Linked DNA regions of Homo sapiens: region 2 is linked to region 1. The links come from fine-mapping of genetic effects on gene expression. Tissue or cell type: esophagus mucosa. Region 1 holds a variant in brackets; the other region holds the start of a gene. All regions are shown on one strand. Distances are from middle to middle.

The links. PIP is the estimated chance that this variant, and not a neighbour inherited with it, causes the effect.
Region 2: EFNB2 starts here. The variant in region 1 is fine-mapped to the expression of EFNB2 in esophagus mucosa (GTEx, PIP above 0.99).

Annotation. Positions count from the first base shown.
Region 1 is chr13:106,096,062-106,104,327 of GRCh38, reverse strand. No RefSeq gene overlaps it. Among named protein-coding and RNA genes, the nearest start is that of LINC00460, 280 kb to the left of the region's middle. RefSeq lists an enhancer at 3,167-4,034. The variant G/A (reference allele first, on the strand shown) is at 3,945.
Region 2 is chr13:106,530,815-106,538,814 of GRCh38, reverse strand. EFNB2 (ephrin B2) reads left to right here and starts at 3,153. Exons shown (of 5, transcript NM_004093.4): 1 at 3,153-3,972. The coding sequence starts at 3,851. RefSeq lists an enhancer at 2,056-2,125 and silencers at 2,706-3,365, 5,495-5,594, 5,655-5,714.

The sequences.
Region 1 (8,266 bases):
GTCCTTTTTCCTCTCTGAATCCCCAGTACCTAAAAGTGTATGTGCAACACAGTGGCTGCTCAATTAAAACTTGTTGCCTGAATGAATGGAAGATGGAGCTTTGAAAGTTTCCAAAGAATTTGGAATTTTTCCTTAGAGCAATTAGTGCCACTACAATCTTTTGAATAGTAGAGGGACAGAACAGACAGGGTTTTAATTAGACTAACGCCAAGAGGTGTGAAGAATGGACTCACCAGGGGCAGAGAGACCAAGGGTATGGAAGCTGTTACAGTCATTCTTGTGCAAGGAGATAGGACGTGGATTGGGGTGGAGGCAGGAGAATGAAGGGGAAGGGCTGGGCGGAAGGTACGTCGTAAAAGGGTTCGTGCCTGTGGTCTGATTGCACCAGGCTGACCAGGAAAGCCAAGTTTAAAATAGCAGCAAAGCTGAAGACAGGCAAAGTCAACACATGGGCTGAGGGAGAGGCCATGGAGGTATTCTGGTGAAAGGTGGGAAGCAGATCCGTACCCGTGATAACACCGCACCTCTTGGTTGTTCCGTTGGAGGTGATGAGTTGGGTTGATGACGGGTACCTGGCGGGATGCTCAGGTGGTGCACACCAGTGAGGCTGTGCTGGTAGTTTAAGGGGAGGCTGTGCTTTTTGCTGTGGTCGCTGCTCTGATTGGGGATGCCCCTGCCCTTGCAGGGAGTACAAAGTTTTGATGCTATCCCTGACTATACCCACGTCTTCCCTTTCCTTCAGCCATGCTCAAAGTACACATATCACTGTCTCCAGTCTGACAGGTGTTAATTATGATTTGTGCTGAGAAGAAAGCAACAGAATATGCCTCTACTGATACGTACCAAATATATCTATCTCACCGGGTACTGACATGCACTGGATGAGAAAAAGTTTCTCAGATTGGGAATGGTTGGAAAGTAAAAGTATAAAGAATAGGCATCTTGAAGATACACTACTGTAAAGCCATTTGGACACAGAATGGCTGGAAAGAACCTAAAGAAGAAAACAACATATAAAAGGCAGAGAGCTAATATTTGTTTTATTCAGAGTCTGGCTCCAAGAGAGAATGCAAACGAATGTGAGAGGGTGTTTAATCTGCTCATATCATCAGACCCATAGGATCATTCGTAGTTACACCTGCTAATGATACACATCTGCCTAAGAAAACCATGTTTTTAAAAATAGACAGTGGTATAGTGCCTGGTGTGTACATATATTTTGCATCATCTTGAGAATATCTGAAAATTTTCTATTGAATGCATGCAGAGGAGGTCATGCATTCATTTATTATTTCAACAAATATTTGGTACCTCCTCTGAGTGAGGTGATGTGTCAGGCCCTGGGAAGACATTACAGGCAAAACACAGTTTCTGCTTCATCGAACCGATAGTTGAGTGAGACAGAAGTCACAGCCCAAGGGAGCATGATGTTTCTTTGAAGTATGAATTTGCTTTTATAAATTCATATGAATACGAAGTATATCTGTGTTTGCTCTAAAATGCATTGCTTTAAAATAATGTATACTCCGTGCAAATCTCCATTCAAAAACTCACGTTGTACCAGAAGAAAGAGCAATATATTTTCTATGAGCTAATTTAAATGGTATTTTGGGACCCCTTCCTGCATAGCTGGCTGATATGGTCTGGTTCTGTGTCCTCACCCAAATCTCATCTTGAATTGTAATCCAAATTGTAATCCCCATGTGTTGGGGGAGGAACCTTGTGAGAGGCGATGAGATTGTGGGGGCAGTCACCTCATGCTTTTCTTGTGATAGTGAGCGTGTTCTCGTGAGATCTGATGGTTTTATAAGACGGTTTCCCTTTTTTGCGTGGCACTTGTCATTCCTGCCACCGTGTGAAGAAGAACGTGTTTGCTTCCCCTTCTGCCATGATTGTAAGTTTCCTGAGGCCTCCCCAGCCATGCTGAACTGCGAATCAATTAAACCTCTTTCCTTTATAAATTACCCAGTCTCGATAAATTCTTTACAGCAGTATAAGAACAGACTAATACCCTTGCAGGACCATTTGACCTCAGTGTATCTTGACTTTCCCCTTCCCTCCTCTGAGACCTGTGTTCAGGGGGTCTGAGGAAGGTCAAGACCTTGGAAGTGTGAAGCCCTGTTCAAATGTTTCTTCCAAGACAGCTGTCTCAAGCTCACTGTGCCCACAGGACAGGCGCTCCTGACTCTGGGGCTCCCCTACCACACTTGGTGCATAAGGGTCTTCTCTAGGCTGCTCATGGTTCCTCCAACTGTAACCATCCCCAATCTGAGCTCTTGCCAGCCCCAAAGATCTGCTTCTGACAAATATTCATTGCTCCAAGATCCACAGAACTCCATTCTTACCAGCGTGCCTCCAACCAGCCTTGACCATCTCTTTCTTGGCTTGAGAAAATCTTTCTCTCTTCGTGATTATTGCAAGGATATTTTGTCTGCAACAAAGGTTAGGTAATTTTAGAAACACCATACTAGGCTTTTTGCTGGGATATGACTTTATGGAGCCCTTGAGGAAACAGGCTCAGCCCATGCTACTGGCTTCAACAGAGAGAAGAAAAGGGATCTAATATGCAGGGAAAGAAAATACAAGTTAACATCTTATCTAAAAAAAGTTCCCAGCATAAATGTTTTATTTTCCTCAAATCATCTAGGATATTATTATGGTTAACTTTTGGCTTTAATCCCTCAGATATCACAATAATTAAATTTCTCTTACTTAACAAATATTTCCTGAGCACCTCTTACGTGCCAGGGACACTGTGAATAGAGTGGGCAAAAATCCCTGGTGTTCAGGGCCTGCCTTCTAGAGCCGAGCTGAGGGACTGAAGGAAAGAAGGTTGTCGAGGCATCCCCAGTTCTACTGTCATTATGTGGTCGCTTATGGGACTTCAAAGGTTTTATGAGGTTGAGCAGAAACCAGACATGGCCCACTTTACTGGCTGATTTTTCAGGCAGTTAATGAGATTTTTCAGTAGTATAATAATTGCTTGGTCACCCAACATTAGTCATAAAAGTAAATTTGAAGAGGGGTCAGACCACAGACCACTTTTTAAAAGACCCTCCTTTACAACATTTTTTTATTAGGAAACTTTTACTGTGAAATCATAGTTAGGGAAATATTTCTTCGGTCTCAGAGAATTATCTTTCTATTCTTTCTTCCCCCACCCTAGAGGCCACCTACTTCAGATTCCCTTCGCAGTGTTTGTTAAGTGGTTATCGTTATGCATTGTTAATGCCCCAAACACAGCTTTACATAAAACAGAAAATTTGAAAAGGCACTGAATACAAAAATAAAATATTCTCAGGGTACCCTTCATGTAGATTTGCTCGGCCGGCGGAGGGAAATGGACTTTAAAATTAGGTCATTTGCGTTAGAAACCCTAAGAAGCAAAGTTCCTCCATTCTGAATGCAGAAGTTAAAATCCAGGCCATTTTAAGACAGCTGGGGCGGCAGGGAGGAGAGAGCAGGACATGTAACTTTGTGTGACAGGCCGTCATGGCAACCGCAAAGGAATCCCCACCCCAGGGTGTGTGCCATTCACAAACAAAGGTGCTACCCTGCAGTCTTCAGGGGGAAATGTCTGGCCTTTTATCTCCTGCAAATTCCCCAGGCTCTAGGGAGGCCACACAAAGCAGGGGCTTTTTTTTTTTTCTGTGCTTACTCAGTCTCACTAGAAGGGGCCCTTTCTTCCAAACTCGGTTTCCCTTCCTGCCTCCCCACCCCCCAACCCAGCTAGTTTCTGCCCTTCCTGCCTTCTCCCCCTAAGCCAGGTGTGTCACTGCAGCACATCCCCTTCCTTATATCTCTGGGGACACCCTCAGCTTCTGGATCACAGCCACCCTGCCCTCTTTCCTAAGTCAGGCTGCTAAGCGTTAGGGAGGAATTTACTCTTAGTAAATTCTCAGTTCTTAGTAGGGCACCTCCCTCCTTGCACGCCCTGCCCTAGG[G/A]TGGGGACAGAGGGTGTGTGGCCTTTACTTTGTGAGAGGTTCCCAGTTTTGCTTTTTCAACGAAAGGGAACAAGTCATTTAAAAAGATAAGCACTGAGCCAGGGTTAAGGGAGAGCACAAAAATAAGATCATTAGAAATTGCAATTGAAGCCAAGTCTAACTTCGTGTCCAAAGATCAGGATTCTTGGCCTTTGTCACCACTGCTGAGTTCTCCTTCTTAAGGGCCCAGTTTGCTTTTTATAAGCTTCAAGTGCATTGTCCTATTTGAAAGATATCTTCTGCTTAGACAAAAAGAATTCTAACTTTTATTCCTTCGTTATCACACGTCCTCGGCCCCTGATTTGATCTCGGAGCAGGGCTCCAGGCAAACAGTGCCCCCTGAACTCTCGCCTCGGCTTCCCCGGCCTCCTCCCTGAACTCTCGCCTCGGCTTCCCCAGCCTCCTCTCCTCTTTGCAGTCTGGTTGCCTGACGCACGCAGCGCATGCTTGCTTGTCACAGACTGCTAGAATGCAAAACGATGAGAATTAATGCTGTTATTAAAGGATTTTTAAATTAAATGTGCAGTTTAGAGCCAGATGCTGCCTTCTTAAAGGAAGAGAAGTTTAAGTTAAAAAATCTGACAGATATTCGTTCCATCTAGCGTGGCAGAATTTATGGTAGATTACCGTCTTTGATTTCTGTGGCCTGGGGTTGTCAGGTCCACTTGCAAATGCGCTGTGGGAAAGAGTTGCACTTTTGTAATTTGAAAACATATGGGACATATGGTAAATATTACACCCATAACTGTTACGAAGTTCTGTTTCCTTAAAGGACCTTTCTTTTTTGCCTGTACCCTCCAGGGGATTACTTGCAAGAACCCCATTATCTTTCTACCTCTATTTTCCCCTAAAGTCGATTTGCTTTATTCTGATGCTTTAGAATCCCAGTGAAAAAATCTGGAAATCGAGTGTTTATTTTTCTCCAGGCATGACAATACAATATTCTACAACCTCTGGTCTCCTCTTGAGCTAATGTTTATTTTACTTTTCATCTTTGTGTTCAAAGATACAGGCTTTTAAAAAATGAGTTTGTATGTTTTCTCTTTGAAGCCATCCTCCCCCTATTATATCTGTAAGCGGGTCAATTAAATAGGTATTGACAAGTTATTACCCTAGGCAAAACCAAAAACCAACCAAGTCTCAGGATTTAAGAAATGAGATTATAATGTGCAAAATGATAAAGGTTATCATACAGTGCAAAGTCCTATGGGAATGCAAAGGAATGAGAAATCATGTCTGATTAGAATGATCAAGAACAACTTTATTGCAGAAGACACATTTGGAATAAGCCTATTACGGATGTTGTAAGAGGCAATATGGATAACTTAGGGCTCCTGCTGGGCATGGCTGTGAGAGGAATGTGTTTGTAGGCTGCTATGTGGCATCTCCCATTGTGAGACAGCCTCCTGGATTCCAAAGTTGGAATGGTCCAGAGTGGACAATGATGAGCTGGTGGTCCCCTCAAAGATATACTCACCAGTACGTAAGTCACCTATGAATGGTGCAAGGACATAGCACGGTGTGTGGTCATTTCTCCAGATTCTCTGAATTAGGTGAGGCAGGGGGATGGCAGGAATGTGCCTTTTTAAAAGCTCACTGGTTGGCTCTACTGATCAGGTTTGAGAACCACTAGAACTAAAGTACACCATAATTAGGAGAGCTAACTATGTCCCTAACTGTAAGTTCAGGGCTATACCCCAACAGAGTAGTTCAACCCAGCAGTGAGCTAACACATTTGCCTGTTTTATCCAATCCCCTTTTTACATTGAGTCAGGGTAATTTTTCTAAAATGCCAAACAGACTCATAAAATACTTCAGAGGCTCCCCACTGTCCCTAGGAAAATGCCTAATTGTTAACATGAACCACATGATGCTCTTTGATCAGATTCTTGCCCACTTTCTCATCTCATCTCTTCCCATTCCTCTTTTTACATTTCCTGCTCTAAACGTCCTTTTCCTCTCATCTCTAAGCCTTCTCCCATGGCTGACCTTTCAGGGGGCCTGCTCATTCCTATCTGCCACCCGGCAGTACTCTTCCCCCAGGTCTCCCTAGAAACCGCTTCCTGTACAAGGACCTCCCTAATACCTCCATCTACCCGGAAGCCTGCCTTTTATGATCTCAGAGCCATTTCTCTACTTTGAAATAATTGCTTATTAGTCTGTTACCTTCTAGAGAATAAACTTTGTGAAAACAAGAGTCAACTCACCTTCCTCAATCTTGCCCTTCTAGGAGCAAGAACATTCATCTCTCGGTATTCATGAAGTATTGGTTCAACTTCTCTCAGATACCGAAATTCAAGAATGCCCAAGTTCCTGATATAAGGTCTCAGAGTATTTGCATATAACCTATGTACATCCACCCATCTACTTTAAATTGCCTCTAGGTTACTTATAATGCCAACTACAATGTAAATGCATATTATACTCTATTTCTTAGGGGAAAATGACAAGAAAAAAAAAACTGTACATGTTCAGTGCAGACACATTTTTTCCCCAAATATTTTAGATCTGAAGTTGATTGAAGCCACAGATGTGGAACCCACAGATACTGAGGGCCGACTGTGCTGTGTCAACGGAGTGTGCTCACCATAAGCATTGTCGAAAGGATGATTAAATGAAAAAAATAAATGAATAAGGAAATTGAAAACATATTTTTCTCGAGGTCCTACAACAAACAAAAACTGAGGAACAAATTTATAAACAAACAACCAAAAAAGAGACTGACAGAATTCTTATGTTTTTGCTGAAATATAATCTAATTTCTAAGTAGAATTTTACTTTACAATTTGCTGGTGATAACTAAATTATATCACAGTACATTATCTTCAAACGGTTTTTATTGCTGTTGCTATAACTTCTTTTAAGTGTATCCCTCTGATTCAAAAGGCTAGCTCTGAAAAAGGTAAAATGCTTCAAGGACGATTCTAATTCTAATTTTTCAGATCTAGTATACTTTTTAATCTGCATTTGGAAATTATTTAGTTAACATACTAGCAGATAATTGAGAAAATGTGTTAAAAGCTGAAATAGCATACTAGTTCAAACATGTTATATGCCTTGTAACAAAAAGTATTTAAAATAAATTTGCTTCCTGAATTTTCTAGAATTCTGATGTAAGAGTGAGACATGCTCTCCCTGATATTTTAGGAACTTTCTAAGTGGCTCTAACTTCTTAAATTTTTGTAGTCATTCTACCAGTGTTAAGTGACGTTAGAAATTTTGTTTGCATTTACATTTCTAGTAACTGTAAAAATCCTCCCAGTTCCACGACTTTTAACCTAGGATCCAATGACCACACTCCTGTCCCCCGCCACCATCAATAGATTTTCAGGGAGGAGAGAGTGTTTACAAACCTTCTGCAGTTGCATGTAAACCTATGTGGATTTACTTATGTGCCTTTGACTGTGGTGAGGGGTAAGCTTTATGAGATTTTCAAGGGGCACTGTCTGAAAGTGTCCTGAGATGTTTCAGGAACCTGGATAGCTGAGTCCCAATTTGCACCTAATTTATCGTAAAACATCTGACCACAAAGTAAATATGTGTCACCAGGAAATAGGTACCATAAAAGTGACTAAGCCTGCAAAGAAAAGTACAGAGAGTACAGGTTTTATTGCTCCAAATCGCTTGAGGTCTCAGAAGGACAAGTGAATCTGGATTGGCACAGTAGACACAGACATTTAACAAGATTCTCCACCAAACTCTTAAGTACGGCATCTTGAGAAAAACCCTTTGGTGGTGCTGTACGTGATAAAAAACAAAGTTAAGACACAGATCTCTGCTCTCAAGGAGTCTAAGTATATATATATATGTGTGTGTGTATGTGTGTGATGTATACATATACATATACATATTCACACATATACACACATAAGCATGTGTGCCCTCTCACACACACATATCATTTTTAAAAAGATTGGTAGAGATTCACTTCAAATGGTCATGGGAGCATTCGGGAGAAAAGAAGGGAAGATTGATTACAACCGCGAGATTTGGAAGGGTTTCTGGAAAAGCTGGGGTTTAAGCTTATTCTTCAATAGACAAACTGAGAAAGAATGAAAAAGGGAGAGGCACTGCAGACAAAAGAGATTTGTTATAAGTGGAAGGAGAAGAGCACAGTCTTTGGGACAGGCAGTGGAGGATTACAGAGGACCTAAGTGTTTCTTTCCAGGGAGTGGAGTCTAATGGAGAACAATCGCGGAAGGATAGGTAGAAGCCAGATAAATATTTGAGTACTGGGCTGGGCATTTGTACTTTACTCCATATGTGGTCGGAAGTCACTGAAA
Region 2 (8,000 bases), 430 kb before region 1:
AAAGCCCAAAACATGCCTAGGAATTCAAAGGGGTAGGAACATAATTACTTGCATTTTTTTTGTTGGAGGTGGGGAATTGCACTTTTTTAAAGCTGCGATTATCTATTTGTCATCTCATTTTACATTTATTCAGCTTTGTGTTAACTTTTATAACTATGGTATCCTTTGAAATTCCCAAATCCTTATTTATTTGACTTATCAGAACTTTTTTTTTTTTTTTTTTTTTTGAGACTGAGTCTCACTCTGCCGCCCAGGCTGGAGTGCAGTGGCGTGAACTCGGCTTCACTGCAAGCTCCGCCACCTGGGTTCACGCCATTCTCCTGTCTCAGCCTCCCGAGTAGCTGGGACTACAGGCGCCCGACACACGCCCGGATAATTTTTTATATTTTTAGTAGAGACTGGGTTTCACCGTGTTAGTGAGGATGGTCTCAATCTCCTTACCTCGTGACCCGCCCACCTCGGCCTCCCAAAGTGATGGGATTACAGGCGTGAGCCACTGCGCCCGGCCTTCAAAACTTAAGTCTAGAACACAGTGAAGTAACTTCCTCTGCTGAAATAAAATCTCATTTGATGAGGGTTTAAATACATCTGCTAAAAGTATAGATTTCTCGAAATACATTGATCATGATTCAAAGTGTGGTAAAGAAAAAAATTAACCAAGTTTTCCCAATAATTGTAAAATGAAGTCCAAATACCAAGAGATACGACACTGATGTGATTGGTTCTTGGTTTGGCATGCTTTGGAAATTCTACTTTGCCTTGTGCATGCCAGTATGACCTACTTTTTTGCTGGCATGTTATACAATAGTAGATACAAATGGCTTTGAGGTGATGCTTTTAATTACCAAAATTACCATTAAATAGTAGAATGTTGACATCTTCGAAGTGAGTACTGCTGATGCTTTTCACATTGTCTACATTGAATCTCTGTTGACTGAAACTAAGCTGTATATTCTCTCACACTATAGATGTTTTGTGTGTGTGTAGGATTCCTTTTCAGTCAAATACGCACTTTGTTTTGAAAAGGAAGCGATTTTAAAGTGTATATTTACATTTGTCCCAAGGTAAAACGCTTTGGATGTGAGACTTTCTGATTTACTGAAAATGTTATTTTTGGAAGCTGGCTTATTTTCAGACAATGCAAATTTCCTGTATTTCCTCTAGTTTACTTGGAGAGGAGGATGTAGTGAGCTAAGAGGTCACAATTTAAATTTCACAATATAAGTTTGTCAAAAGGTACTGAGTACCCAGTGTTCTTTTAAAAGATCATTAAGCTAACTTTATATTCAATTTCAATGAGTTCCTTAAATGGTATTTTAGCATACTAAAAACTAGCCCTTTCTCACCCTTGTCAAGGTAGGAGTCATAGTGCCTGCTGCTTCCTGGGTTGTTGGTGCTTCCTGGGAATCCGCTGTTCAAATCGTCATACCGTGGTGGAGCCTTTTTAAAATAAATTTTATATATATATGTGTGTGTGTGCATATATATATGTGTATATATATACGTATATATGTGTGTGTATATATATACGTACATATGTGTATATATGTATAAATATGTGTATATGTGTGTATACGTATATGTGTGTATATATATATTTAGTTTGAAGGCTTATTTAAAATGAAAATAAATTATGAAACTTTTCTGCTCTCAAAGATCTGTTTGGAAGAGTAAGTGTATTCAGTACTTTGTATGCCTTAATGTGTTTTCTATCTTAAACTAGTCTTCACAAGCTTTTACCACTCCAACTGAGATGTATACGTTAAGTTAGACTAATGTTTCAAAAACGGATACTTAAAAGCAACGTACCATAAAAATCTTCAGAAATTGTTACAAAGAAGAGTGAAAGAAAACAAGGTGTTTTACCATATGCATTTTTAAATTTAGCGTAGTGGATACTTTGTTTTAAAAATACATAATTTGTAGAATTACTGCCCAGTTTGTGTTTGAAACATAAATCCTGGGGTGGACGGCATTAAATTGAAAAAAAACGTGGGCATACAGTATATTTTAATTTTTCATACTGAATCGTACATTTGCACTGTGCCTTATTTCTACCGTGTTCTTCCTACTGTTGGACATATAAAAAGATTTTCCTTGGAACTGTGACTTGATTAGATGCTGCAGTATGCTGGATCCGGGTCGGTGGACCGCAGAGCGCTCGAGATGCGGAGAAGCAAAGCTGGCCGCTAGTGGGCGCTGTGGCTCCGTGGAAGTCACGGACGAGCGTCAGCACCGGCGCTCGACCGGGAAAGTAGCGAGGAGTTCCTGCCAGCTCTGCTCTGGGGTCTTGCAGACGCCGAGTGAGAAGCACATGCCTTGACTTTTCCATCTCACACCCTCTAAATCTCTGGTCACTTTGGGAAGCGCGCGTGTCTCCTAGAGGCTAGTGAGACGGTCCCCGCGTCGTGCCTGTGCCGGCGACACGCGGGGAAAGCTCCAGGGGCGCCACCTTCCCGGGGGGCCAGGAGGGAAGGGAGACGCCCGCAGAGAAGGCGGGAGGCGACGATGCTCAGGCCCTGATTAGAGCTGCAAATTCCGGCGCCGCGTCGCAGGAATCGTCTTGCAATTCCCGGCCCCACTGACTGAAACTGAGCCGTAGGCGATTGGTACCAAAATCAAGTGAGAAGCCCTCGCCGAGAGGCGTCGGGAGAAGCGCGCAGAAGCCGGGAGCTCTAAGGGTGCGCGCGGAGTGCAAGTCTTGCACGCGGGGCAGCGCCGCATCTGCGGAGAAGGGACGCCGAGCGGAGCCTGCTGCCTTCCGCACTGCTCGAGGGAAAGCCGCGCCCTCTGATTCCGCCGAGGGGGAAGGCGCCCCCGGGCGCGGAGACAGGTGGCCCGCTACTCGGCCGTCGCTGTTTCCACGTCTGCACCGCGCCCAGAAGGCCTCTCGCCGCCCCGGGGGCGCCCTGTGCACGCGCTGAGCGCTTCTCCTGCCCGGCTTCTGCTCCGCTCCCGCCGCCCGCGGGAGCCAGGGGCGGGGCTCACCTGTCAGCCCGAGCCCCGCCTCGCGGCACCCAATGTCGGGAGGGGATGGCGGACGGACGGACCGGCCGTCCAACCAGCGCGCGGCCGCGGAGCCGCGGGCCAATGGGCTTCGCGCGGCGGGGCGGGGCCCCGCGTTTATAGCGCTCTGACAGCGCGGCGGCCGCGCTGACTCTCCTCGGCGGGGACCGCGGCGCCGGCCGGAGCGAGGAGCTGCGCACGCAGCGGGTCCCGGCGCCCTCCCCGCACACAAAGGCCCGCGCGCGTCCGGAGCCCGCGGCGGGGACCGAGCTCCCTCTTTCCTGCCCTGGGGGCCGGGAGCCGCGCGGACTGAGAAGGCTCCTGCGCGCCCGGAGGCGCCCTACTCCGCTCCGTGCTCCGGGACATGGAACCGCGCCGACGCGGCGCCCGCGCGCTCGGGCCGCTGCCCGCTGCACTGGATCTATAGTCACAGGCGGCCCCGCTCGGGGCGCAGCGCCCGCCGCCCGCGCCGGTCGTCTCCGCTCCGGGTCTTTGTGTCCCAGCCCGCACCCGCCCCGCGCCCACCCGCCAGCCGCGGCCGGCCCGGCACCCTGGAGCCGCACGGGAGTCGGCCGTCCGAGCTGCGTCCGGCGCGGCGCCCCGGAACCCCGAGTCCGCCGCGCCGCCGCGCCCCGCGCGTGCGCTCCCGCCCCGCGCCCTGAGGGCCCCGGAGAGCGAGCGCACCTGGCCCGGCGACCGCTGGAGCTGCGCAGCGCGCCTCGGAGCTGCCTGCGGGCGCACGCCGTCTTCCCCGCCAGTCTGCCCCGGAGGATTGGGGGTCCCAGCCTGCGTCCCGTCAGTCCCTTCTTGGCCCGGAGTGCGCGGAGCTGGGAGTGGCTTCGCCATGGCTGTGAGAAGGGACTCCGTGTGGAAGTACTGCTGGGGTGTTTTGATGGTTTTATGCAGAACTGCGATTTCCAAATCGATAGTTTTAGAGCCTATCTATTGGAATTCCTCGAACTCCAAGTAAGTGGCGTCCGCGATCCCCCTATGTCCCCGCCCCGGGGTCCGCCGCGCCGTCCGGGCGGGAGGAGGGGTCAGTCCGCGGGGCCTCGGAGCCTGTTTCTGGAACCTCGGTTCCCCGTCCCCCACCCCCAACCCCCGCCCCATTTCACTAGGTGGAGACTCCTCGCTCGGCTTTCCAACCCGAGCCCCGCTGGAACGGACGGTCTCTCCGCCTTTCCTCCCCCGAACGCTCCCAGGCGCTAAAAGCTACTATCGGCTCGGGTGTCAAGTCCGGGAAGGTGTCCGATGGCGATACCTGACCCTCTCCTGTTTTCGAGGACGAAGGACATGGCCACAATCTAGGCTGGCCGGCACGCGGGGACTGGTGGGCTCTGGAGAGAGGCGGAGATGCTGCATTCGCGGGGAGCGCGGGCGGCGTGGTCCGGGGCCCGCGGGCGGGCGACCGGGGTGGCAGGACGCTGGCAGCGAAGCGCGTTCTGGAGAGGGGAGCCTGGAGTCGCTACGCTGCCCGCAGAGCCCTGGAGCCGGGGCGCCTTGGCACCGCGCCGCCAGCCCGAGGGTGCGCGGGGAGCTCGCCTGCTTCGCAGGAGAACTCGGGCGTCGAGCCCTTTCCTCCGCGCCGGGGAGACGGGCCTTAGGCTTCTCCCTGAGGGCCCGCCGCACCTCGGCCTCCCGCTTCGTTCATAAGCCGGTAGCCCCGGAGTATGCGGTCTCGATGGCCGACCTGATTGTAATGCACTTCCTATAAAAGCTTAGGGCCCTGCCCAGTCGACACTGCTCCTGAAGCCTTCTCCCTCGGGACCCTGGTAGGAATGGGATCCTTAGGATCAGATTTGCTCTTACCGGACTCTACAGCCGGGAGCGAGCCAGGCCTTGTGGAGAGTAACTTTCAGTTTGGGCCACCAGAGTGCATTCAGAATTTAGAAAATCCCATCCATCCCTAAATCTGTGTGGTCATAACTCGTAGTCATCTGGGTATTCAGTACTGTGTATCCCCTTATTTCGAATCACAGCCAAAACATATTTTACAGAATCTTGGAATTGTAGTCTCGGGAAACTTGGAGAAGAAGTATGCAGACATTAGCTGGTTTCTGGAGAAAACGTTTGAGATCAGAAGCAAAATCAATGGCCTAATTGAAGTTGAGCAAGTTGGGCCTGGTTTTAGGAGAAAAGAAATGGGGGATTGATTTAGAAATCACGTCTTAAAGGAGTGTGTCCATTCTCTTAAAAGTGTCAAATTTCAAATTCACTAACATGTTAACCAAGAATCCCTTCATGAAAAGGGCGAAAACGTCGGTTACAAATCGGTTTAAACAAATGTTTGTATGATGCTAGAAGGCACTTTCAACACCGCTCATACGGAGAAGTTACTTAGCTCTGCCTCCTTCCATGTAGTCTGCTCTTGCATGGATTATATTTTTAATGTAAATTGTTGTATTTGCTGATGAAGTACTGGCGGCGGCATCTTTGCATCGATGCCGGCTCGGGAGGCGCCAGGTGGTGCCGGAAGGAGCCGGGCTAGGACCTCGCGCAGCAGCGGGTCCCGGAGTCCGGGAGAGGCGGGCGGGCGGGCGAGGCGGTCGCGGGGAGCCCGCGGCGCCGCTGCCCGCCCGGTGCCTCCAGAGGTCACTCTTCCATGCGGAATCGCGCAGCGCCAGGCCTCGCCCCTCCCCCAGGCCGCCTGCTCCAGCCACTCTGCACTTTCACTGACCGGTTCTCTTTGAGGCTGTTTTTTTTTTTCTTATGAGGATTTAATATTTCTGTTTAAATCTAGTTGAAAGCAATTCCGTTAGCCTCTTCAGCGTTTAGTTCGGTGTGTGTATCTTTATCTTTGCGCTATATTAACTATTAGTTTGTGTGTATCCGGTAGGAGAATTAGAAATACCTAGTTGGGAGAAAAAGAAAAGTAGAACAATAGTTATTTCAACCTAAGGTTTAGACGTTAATAACTTCTTTTTGTAATGTGTCGAGATGGGGGGTCCTGGGGGGAGGTGACAGGTACTCACCACTCCCCCCCCCCATTCTGATGATGAAGATGAGTCTGTCTTTCCAGCTATGTCCAGACCTGCGAGGGCCCTGCGTTTCTGGAAGCCTGCCGTTTGCGCGGTTGAGGTTGCTGCTGCTGTCTTGTCCTCCACAGCAGCATTTCTTTTAAAATTCTCCTGATAACGGCCTGCCTGGATGACTGGATAATGTGTGCCTGGAAAAGGTCTCCCTTGCAGCTGAATGCTAGCTCCAGAGATCAGAAAGATTTCTTCCTGTAGGAGCCATAGGAAAGAGTCCTCTCTAAGTTTTTGAGAATGCATACAACCCCCTGATGACAGGGGGTCGCTTTCCTTGGGGAAGTTTTATATTTATTTCCAGAGGAAAGTTTGAATCGGTAAATATGATGTGGCAGGAAGGTAATCAAATGCATTGAAGTTTCACATCAGTTCCTATGAACTGTGGAACAATTCATTTGTAATGAAGCCGCCATCAGTAATTAGATTTGTTTCATTCAGAGGTCAGCTTTTTTAGCAGGTGGTCGACACAGGGAGCATGCAGCAGCTGTTTGGATACAGGGTCCAGAAAACCCTTTGTAAATTCAGCGTCTCCGTAACTACTTTAATCACATTGTCGGCTCTCCCGTCCCTGACTGTATGTAATAATGGAAAGATGTCCTGCGTGCTGAAACAGTAGCTGCCCTGTTAGGTTATTCACATTGCTTTGATACGTTCTGGTAGAGTTGGGTCCGTTGTAGCCATTTTGGTTGTTTAAAGTTTTGGTTTTTTTTTTGTTTTTTTTTTAATTCAGCAGAGAACAGTAATGCCTAGCTTCCGTTTTTAACTTAACACTTCAGTAGAACATTTTCTTCCAAGAGGGAGATTTTGGCCTAAGTAAAGTAGTGGGCTCTTTTTTAAAAAAAAATTAATTTTACTTTAATGTGAGCAAATCTGTATTGGTATGGTGTTCTGCAATGCATTACACTGACTTTGAAAATTTCGAGTACTAATGCCTTATGTCTGGGGTTACCATTCCCTGTGCATCACATACTAGTTAGTTAACATAGCATTTTGCTTTTCCCATGTAATTTTTTCCCTATATAATACTGGATTCCTGATACTAATTGACTTGATACAAAAGAATGGCTGGATGATATCCAGATAACGTATAATACATGGGCTTCACCACAATCAGGCTCTGAATAAATACAGACCTGTCAGAGATTGATAAAATAAACTACAATGGATAGTGCTGTTTAAACAGTCCATTCAATAACATATATAAGCCAGCCTGCCTTCCATTGTGTCTGAAATTCTTATTTTTGTAGGTAAACAAATGCACATTCAGCACTGATTGAATAGCCCCTTGAACTATGCTCCACAGTTTGCGTTTGGGTTAATCTTGTCGGTTTTAATATAGAGAGAAAAAAGCTCAAAGCACCAGGGGTGGAATTGTTAGTGCTTTCACATCCACATTCCTCACATTTTGTCAGGATGATAAACTGTAGGTAATGGACTGTCGTTGTTCTGCAGGACAACTGAGCCAGGCAGAGCACAAAGACTAAGCTAAAGCGATACCTCACAACATGCTTGGTAGCCTTCTTTTCAGATGAGAATTTATTTGAGAATCATGTGTCTAGGGACTGCACATCTTAACCTCAACAGTTACAGCTTCAAGCCCCAGAAACAGGAGCTGGAGGTTAAGATGATTTGCTAAGCACCTGGTTCTAAATCTTTTACAAAGCATAAGCTGTTGACGCTGGTTCTGCCGACGCAAAGACATGCAGATGACTCCAACATTTCCAGAGGCTTCTGACTTAAGCTAAAGTGTGTGGACAGGTGAATTCGCCATGGGCCTGGAGACCAGCTTGCTAAAAACTATGTGTTTGAATGGTTCCTCCAGACAGAGTCAGCTGAAGAACAATTGGTGGATTTATATTAAAACCTCTTGTCTGTAAACTTACTGAGGTGCATCCTTCGGTTGGTGGATCAGTGAGATAATTGCCTTCAGATGGACATTGCAACTGGAGCAACTAAATCCTTGCT